Regions from separate parts of the Homo sapiens genome. Here region 1 is linked to region 2. Evidence: fine-mapped expression QTL. A gene starts in region 2. The other region holds a variant in brackets. All regions are shown on one strand. Distances are between the middles of the regions.

Region 1 (4,395 bases), 26 kb before region 2:
GTGTGAGTCATGTGCCTGGCCTCCACTGGAGTCTTGAACCCCAAAAAGTCATCTATGAGAGTTGGAATCAACTTTCTCCAAACTCCTGTTAATGTTGATATTTTGGCCTCCACACCATGAATCACGAATGTTCTCAAAGGCATTTAAAATAGTGAATCCTTTCCAGAAGGTTTTTCTTTTTTTTCTTTTCTTTTCTTTTCTTTTTCTTTTTTTTTTTTTTTGAGACAGAGTCTCTGTCACCTAGGCTGGAGTGCAGTGGCACGATCTCGGGTCACTGCAACCTCTGCCTCCCGGGCTCAAGCAATTCTCCTGTTTCAGCCTCCCAAGTAGCTGAGACTACAGACACATGCTACTATGCCTGGCTAATTTTTGTGTTTTCAGTAGAGACAGGGTTTCACCATATTGGTCAGGCTGGTCTGGAACTCCACACCTCAGGTGATCCACCTGCCTCGGCCTCCCAAAGTGCTGGGATTACAGGCGTGAGCCCCCATGGCTGGCCTCCAGAAGGTTTTTCTTTTTCCTTTGAGACAGAGTCTCGCTCTGTCACCCAGGCTGGAGTGCACTGGCACAATCTTGGCTCACTGCAACATCTGCCTCTTGGGTTCAAGCATTTCTCCTGCCTCAGCCTCCTGAGTAGCTGGGATTACAGGCATGCGCTATCATGCACAGCTAATTTTTGTATTTTTAGTAGAGACAGGGTTTCACCATGTTGGCCAGGCTGGTCTTGAACTCTTCAGCTCAGGAGATCCACCTGCCTTGGCCTCCCAAAGTGCTGGAGTTACATGTGTGAGCCACCATGCCTGACCCAGAAGATTTTTCAATGGACTTTGCTCAGATTCATCAGAGGAATCACTATCTGTGATAGTTATAGCCTTACGAAATGTTTTTCCTAAATAAGACTTGAAAGTTCAACTTACTACTTGATACATGGGCTGCAGAATGGATGTTGTCTTAGCAACCGTGAAAACAACATGAATTTCCTTGTATGTCTCTATCAGAGCTTGAGTGACTAGGTATGTTTTCAACAAGCATTAATTTTTTTTTTTTTCCTGAGCAGTTGTTCTCAACAGTGGGTTTAAAATGTTTAGTTATCCATGCTATGAGCAGATGTGCTGTCATCCAGGCTTAATTCTTAAGGGTCCTAGGATTTTCAGCATGGTAAATGAACACTGGCTTCAACTTAAAGTCACTCGCTGCATTAGCCCCTAACAAGAGAGTCAGCCTGTGCTTTGAAGCCAGGCATTGACTTGTCCTCTGTAGTTACAAAAGTCCTAGAAGGCATCTTCCAATGGAAGAATGTTTGGTCTACAAGGAAAATCTGTTGAGTGTAGGCTTCTCCACCAATGATCTTAGCTAGATCTTCTGGATAACTTGCTGGAGCTTCTACATTAGCACTTACTGCTCCATCTTGCATTTTTATGTTCTGAAGACGGCATCTTTCCTTAAACCTCACAAATAAACCTCTCCTAACTCCAGACTTTTCTTCTGCAGCTTCCTCACCTCTCTCAGCCTTCACAGAATTGAAGAACATTAGGACCTTGCCTGGATTAGGCTTTGATTTAAGGGAATGTTGTGGCTGGTTGGATTAGGCTTTGGTTTAAGGGAATGTTGTGGCTGGTTTGCTCTTCTGTCTAGAGCATTCAAACTTTCTCCATATCGGCAAAAAGACTGTTTCACTTTCTTACTCATGCGTTCACTGAAGTAGCACTTTTTTAATTTTTTTTTAGGGGTTCTGCAAATGGAGTAAGAACTAGCACTTTTACTTTTCTTCAGGAATTTTTCCATTGTGTTTATGACTTGGCTGACTTTGACACAAGAGGCTCAGCTTTTGACATGTCTTCCTTTGTAAGCTTGATCATTTCTAGCTTTTTTTTTTTTTTTTTTTTAAGACGTTAGTTTTAATCTGTCACCCAGGCTGGAGTGCACTGGCGCCGTCACGGCTTACTGCAGCCTTGACCTCCAGAGCTCGGATTATCTTCCCACCTTAGCTTCCCAAGTAGCTAGGACTACAGGTGCCTGCCACCATGCCCACCTAATTTCTTGTACTATTATTTTTTAATAGAGATAGGGTTTTGCCATGTTGCCCAGGCTGGTCTTGAACTCTTGGGCTCAAGGGATCCTCCTGCCTCGGCCTTCCAAAGTGTTGGAATTACAGGTATGAGCCATTGCACCTGGCCAATGCTTTCAATTCTTTTGGGTATATACCCATAACTGGAATTGCTGGATTATTTGGTAAATTTATATATATACACACACACACACACACACACACACACACACACACACACATATATACATATATATACACATATATACACACACATATATATACATATATATATATTTTTTGAGATGGAGTCTTGCTCCATTGCCCAGGCTAGAGTGCAGTGGCGCAGGTAT[A/C]GCTCACTATAGCCTCGAACTCCTGAGCTCAAGCAATTCTCCTGCCTTGGCCACCCAAGTAGATGGGACTACAGGTGCATGCCACCACACCTGGCTAATTTTTTTTTTTTTTTTGGTGGAGATGGGAGTCTCTATGTTGCCCAGGCTGGTCTCTAACTAGTGGCCTCAAGCAATCCCTCCCGCCTCAGCCTCCCAAAGTGCTGGGATTACAAGTGTGACCCGACATGCCTGGTTGGTAATTCTATTTTTAATTTTTTGAGGAACCATCATACTGTTTTCCTTAGTTGTGCCAGTTTTATATTCTCACCAATACTGTAAAAGAATTCCACTATGTCTATATTCTCACCAACACTTATTAATTTTTTTTTCTCTGCTAGTAGCCATCCTTATGGGTGTGAGGTGGTCTTCAGTATTTTTAAGATTTTATTTCATTGTCTTCTAGCTGCATAGCTGTTAACAAGTAGTCTTTGGAAATCATTATCTTTGTTTTTGTGGGTATAAAGTGTCTCTTACCTCTGCTTTTAAATTTTCTCTTTATCACTATTTTTCAGCAATTAGATTTTGATGTACTGTGGTTATCCTGCTTGGAGTTAAGCTTCTTCGTTGTTGGTTTATAGTTTTCGTCAAATTTGGAAAAATTTGGCCACTGTCTCCTTAATTTCATCTTTCTGTTCTCCCTTCCATATATAGCCACTCGATATTATTCCAAAAATCTCTGAGGTTTGATTCCTTTTTTCCCTAGTTATATTCTCTTTGTGCTGTATTTTAGATAAAATTTGTTTTTCAATTTCACTGATCTTCTTTAGTATCTAGTCTGCTATTCAGTTAATTGTTTTCATATATTGTATCTTTCATCTCTAGAAGTTCTGCTTTTTAAAAAAATCTTTGATTTTTCTCATTAAGTATTTGTATTAATACAAAAATGGCAGTTTTAACATCCTTGTCTGCTAGCTGTATCACCCCTGTCATTTCTGTGTCTGTTCCTGTTCATTATGTTTTGTCCTCATTATGGTCACATTTTCCTGCTGCTTAGCATGTCTAGTCATTTTTCTGTTAGATGGAGTACATTGTAACTCTTAAGTTATTGAGGATCTGGACTTCGTTTACTTGTGTTGGGCTTCATTTTGGCAATATTTGTGGAACAGTGTGATCTCCCTTGAGTCTGCTTTTCCGCTTTGCTAGGGTGAGTTTAAGTCAAGCAGCCTTCATTCAAGGGATATTTGATGCCTGCTACCAAGGCATGACCTTGGGGTTTCTAATGTCTTGGGTGATTACAGAGGACTCTTCCCTCTGGCATCCCCCAGTGTGAGCTTTGGGAATTGCTGTTTCCAACTCCCCACTCTTAGCTTGGCCTAGCGGAGTGTCACTGCTTCTATGCAGCCAGGCACTCAGTAAGGACTCGAGGGGACCACGGTATAGATTCCTGGAGGTTTTTTTTTCCCTCCATAGTGTTCTCCTTTCTGGAAATCTGCTTGCAGCTTCAACTATCTCACCTTTCCTCAACTCCGCAAGACTGCCAGGTTCTGTTTCTATTTCCTTTCCCTGTGCCTGCAGCTTGGATATTGCCTCCATGAAGAGAGCTGGGATGATTACAGGGTTCATCCTATTTTTTTCCTTTCTTAGGGATTACAGTCCTGTCACAGCTGCCTGTGGTCCAATATGTGGAAAACGTTTGTTTCATATACTTAATTTACTTTTCTAGTTGTTTATAGAAGGAAGTTAAGTCCCATCCTTCTTACTCTGGCATGACTAAATGTGGAAGTCTGCAGATAGAGTATTCCTATCAGGGAATAGAGGGAGTAGAAGCAGGAAAGAGAAATGCACAAAGCTTCTGTGTCCATCCCTTAACTTGGCCAAAGAATCAGTGCTGCCCATGTGTCTCCAGAAGTGGAAAGTATACCTTCACATCTCTGCCTACAGGCAAAAGAACCAGTTTTGAAGCCTATTTCTCTTGAATAGAATTTCAGGAAGTTCACAGAATCAGATAATAAGAGT
Region 2 (4,395 bases):
CAGGATCTTACCTTGGCTTCTGGGACACTGCCCTTTTCGGATTGTCCTAACTCACAAGTTCATCCTTCTTAATACTGTTTGCTGGTTGATCCCGTTTTCGCTAAACTCTTAATATCACAGGACACAGTCCTTAGGCCTCTGCTGCTTTCCGTCTACACCCATTCCTTACGGATAACATTTATTCTCATGGTTTAAGTACCACTGCTGATGATCCCCAAATTCATATAGCATAGAACTTCTCACTCCTGAATCTAGCTGCCTACTCAACATCTCTATTTGTTATCTTTTGCATCGTGGCTTAAAGAACTCCATACTTCTACGAGCTTGGGCAAAACCTTTGATTTCATCCTCCACTCCCTCTATCTCACTCTCCATATCCAATTCCTAGCAAATACTGTAAGGCCTACCTTCAAAATGCATTCAGAATCCAACCACTTCTCACCATCCCTACGGTTATCACCCTGACCTGGGCCACTCTCGTCATCTGGATTACTGCAAAAATCTCCTAAATGATTTCCCTGCTTCTACACTCACCCCTACACTCTAATCACAACTCACAGCCAGGGTGATCTTCTAAAACTTCAGTTACAACATACCTCTCCTCTATTCAAAATCTCCCATGGCTTCTATCAGCCTTTACAATGATCCGGCTACCATGATCTCTTTGACTTTATCTTCTTGTCCCTCCACCCCCAAAACTCTTGCTCATCCCTCTCCAGATACACTGGCTTCCTTGCTATTCCTCAAACATGACAGGCCTAAAAGCATTTGTATTGGCTTTCCTATCTGCCTGAATGCTCTTCCTGATATTTACTTAGCAAATTTTCTTAATTCCTTCAAGTCTTTGCTCAAATAACACCTACTAAATGAGGCTCAAACTGACCACCGTCATCTTTAAAATACCAGTTCCCACCTCCACTCTGGAACTTTCCCGTACTCCTTTATATTTCTCTTTTTTTTTTTGATGGCACCATCACTTTCTAACACCATTATATATTTTATTTTCTGCATCCTCTAATAGAATGTAAGCTCCATGAGGGCAAAGCTTTTTATTTTGTTCACTTAAGTAAAATAGGCGTCTAGAACAGTACCTGGCACACAATAGGAGCCAAAAAAAAATCTGTTCAGTAAACGAAGGCAAATATCAGTAAGTATAATATGCGTGTGGGAGGGGAGAGGGGGTTAAAAAGGGCAAGAAGTCCCAATAGGTAGATAAAAACTCCACAGAGTAGGAATACAGAATCGTGCATCGTGTCCCATTTGACAAATTTTTGAGTTTATCTAGAAAATAGCCCTGCGTTAAACGTTTGTTAAAAGTGCTGATTTCAATGTTCTTACATTCTTTAAAAATTCCTTGTTAAGTGTTCTAATCTTTTAGATGTGGTATCAGCCACAGAAATTTATTGTTCCCTTCTTGTTTTGCAGTTCAGAAAATTAGAAGTCAAATTCGGAAGTAACTCGTCCTAGCATTTTTTGATTAAACCACCAAGTTTAAAATTCGTTCCTTTTGTCGGAGTTCGCACGAAGAAAGTTGGAAGGCAGACTTCAAACAACAAGCTACAAAGCACAGGAATGAGACATTTAAAAAATGCTCTCCGAAATTCGGCAAAACTCACAGGGCGCTAGTGGATGCTTTAAGACATTCACCTGGCTGAAAATACGGTGGTGGGCTGAAGACCTCCCCTAGGTGGGTTCTGTGGGCGCCCCGTGAACGACGAGCCTCCCGCCACGGGACGCGACCATCACCGCCGCCTCGCCGCCCTTCTCCGGTGCCGGCCGCGGGGCCTTGCCGGCAACGGTCGGTAACGGGCAGATCCCAGGAGCGAAGGGCCCTCAGAGACTACCCCACCAACGCACTCCGACTCCGGGGGGGCGGCAGGGAGCGCGGCCCTGCTTCCCTCCCTAACCCTGCCCTCCCTAACCCACTACCTGTGGGGAAGGCGCTTCCCTCCGCGGAGCGGACAGAAGCCGCCACGAGCCCGGCAGGAGGTTCCTACTTCTCCGACCACCTCTCCAGCCGCCGCAGAAACCGCAGAACTGAGCTGACGACCCGGAAGTGCTCGCGGAACCTGGAAGTGACACCCCGCCCGAGGGACGGGAGGCCCCGCCCAGCCCTGCTCTCGCCCGCCACTCAAGCCTTGTCAGGGAAGGGCGTGGAGAGGGAAGGAGGGGCGTCGGGCTGGAGCTTGAAGCCTTAAAGTGGTGGACAGGCGCTCTGCTCGAGTAATTCACCAGGTTTACTAAATCGTTCCTAAGGGAATTATAATTTTTAGAGACTAATCTTCTCCATTGTTAGATGCACAATTTAAGAAATGTAGGGCATTCATATTTCATGCCGGAAGTGTGTTCAGGGTAACAGTGTTGAAGACCTTGCAGACGAATTCTGAAAAGATTATAGCAGGGGCCGGGCGCGGTGGCGCACGCCTTAATCCCAGCACTTTGGGAGGCTGAGGCGGGTCGATCACCGGAGGTCAGGAGTTCGCGACCAGCATAATATGGTGAAATCCTGTCTCTACTAAATACAAAAAATTAGGCAGGCGTGGTGGCGCATGCCTGTAATTCGAGCTACTTGGGAGGCTGAGACAGGAGAATGGCTTGTACCTGGGAGGCGGAGGTTGCAGTCAGCTGAGATCGCGCCATTGCACTCCAGCCTGGGAAACAAGAGCGAAACTCCGTCTCAAAAAAAAAAAAAAAAAAAAAAATTATAGCAGGGTAAGCAGGGTATCTTCTTTACCCCTCGAAACAGGGCTGCAGGCAAAGTTTTTAGTTTGTGACCAGTTCATGAAGAACTTTAATTTGGGAGAAGTTATATTTAAAATTTGCATCTAATATGCAAGATAAATACTTCACTATAAATTTCAAGTTTGCAAAATCACAAATTGTTTTAGGTGTCAGGGTGCATGGTACACTAACTGGCTTAAACCCAGCAGTCATGTGTAGAGCAGTTTATCCTACAAAATAGCTGAATAGTGATTAAAGAGTATGTGCAAAACAACAACAACAAAACCACAAAAAACACCAAGTGGTATCAGCTGGAACCTCTGAGCAGGTCTATGAACTAAACAAGTTCTTCTTATTTAAGCCATGTTTTCGGCCAGGGGCGGTGGCTCATGCCTGTAATCCCAGCACTTTGGGAGGCCGAGGTGAGCGAATCACCTGAGGTCAGGAATTCGAGACCAGCCTCAACGTGGAGAAACCCCGTCTCTACTAAAATACAAAAAAAATTTCGCTGGGCGTGTTGGTGCATGCCTGTAATCCCAGCTACTCGGGAGGCGGAGGCAGGAGAATTGCTTGAACCTGGGAGGCGGAGGTTGCGGTGAGCCAAGATGGCGCCATTGCACTCCAGCCTGGGCAACAAGAGCGAAACTGTCTCAAAAAAAAAAAAAAAAAAAAAAAGCCATGTTTTCATTTTAAGCCACTCATGGTTTCATCCTTGGATTCCCCATTAATTAAAAAAAAATCTCAACTATGAAACACAAAGTTTCATTATTGTTTTGATGTTAAAATAAAGCAGGCTGAACTCTCTAATCCCCAAAGAATAGAAGCACTTAGACTATAGAAAGGGAAACAAGTGTAAAGGTCTGAAATTATTTAAGAGGTTTATAGGATAATTCAAAGCAAAAATTTAGTAGCATAATGAAAGAAAAATGTGATAAAAAGACAAAGACGAACGTTCCAATTAATTTATTTAAATTCATTAATGTTGCAAAAAATATGATGTGCAACAAATCAAGACACAAGTTATATTCCTAACAGGTCAAAGAAAATATTACATCTCCTTAGTAAATCATGACCAACTCTGGTATTTCTTACAGGGACCACATTAATATCTTGCACACACAGACATCAGAACTGAATTTCTGACAGTACTCGGCTGGGCAACATCATCTTAAGAGTAGGAAAATATCACAGTACATTAATTTTGTCTAAATGACAGCAATGAACCTGTGGTAACAAAAGTATTTTTGGAATAGATATCAAAGTGTGTTAATGTCTTAACAAACTCTGAATTGTGTTCTGTGTGAATAGTGCTCCAAGGGCTGTGCAAGTCAGTGGCCCTGAACATCATCAATATTTACTAGCTAGGTTTACACAAATAAACAAGCAACTGTTAAACGGACATTAAACTTTACAAAGTCCACATACAAAAAGTGCAGTGTAGAAGCTGATGAATGTTATTTTCCAAGTTCCTCCTTAGCCAAACTGCATAAAAATTTCAAAATGCAAATATTTTAACTTCTTGTTAAACATGATTCTAAGACATCCTACAAGCCTAGTATCATTAATTTGAAAGCACGAAATGATTTTCATTTGGTGCTTACGTGCTTTATGTGAATTTTTCATAGCATTTTACTTAGTTCTCAAAACATAAATAGGTCTATTATAAATAGTTGC

What was found. PIP is the estimated chance that this variant, and not a neighbour inherited with it, causes the effect. A credible set is the group of variants that fine-mapping cannot tell apart.
Region 1: its variant is the best candidate, but not a certain one, in a credible set for the expression of GTF2A2 in memory regulatory T cells (Schmiedel 2018, PIP 0.60).

The regions. Positions count from the first base shown.
Region 1 is chr15:59,629,207-59,633,601 of GRCh38, forward strand. No RefSeq gene overlaps it. Among named protein-coding and RNA genes, the nearest start is that of GCNT3, 20 kb to the left of the region's middle. The variant A/C (reference allele first, on the strand shown) is at 2,401.
Region 2 is chr15:59,655,477-59,659,871 of GRCh38, forward strand. GTF2A2 (general transcription factor IIA subunit 2) reads right to left here and starts at 2,039. Exons shown (of 5, transcript NM_004492.3): 1 at 1,930-2,039. BNIP2 (BCL2 interacting protein 2) reads right to left here. Exons shown (of 10, transcript NM_004330.4): 10 at 3,670-4,395. RefSeq lists an enhancer at 1,846-2,075.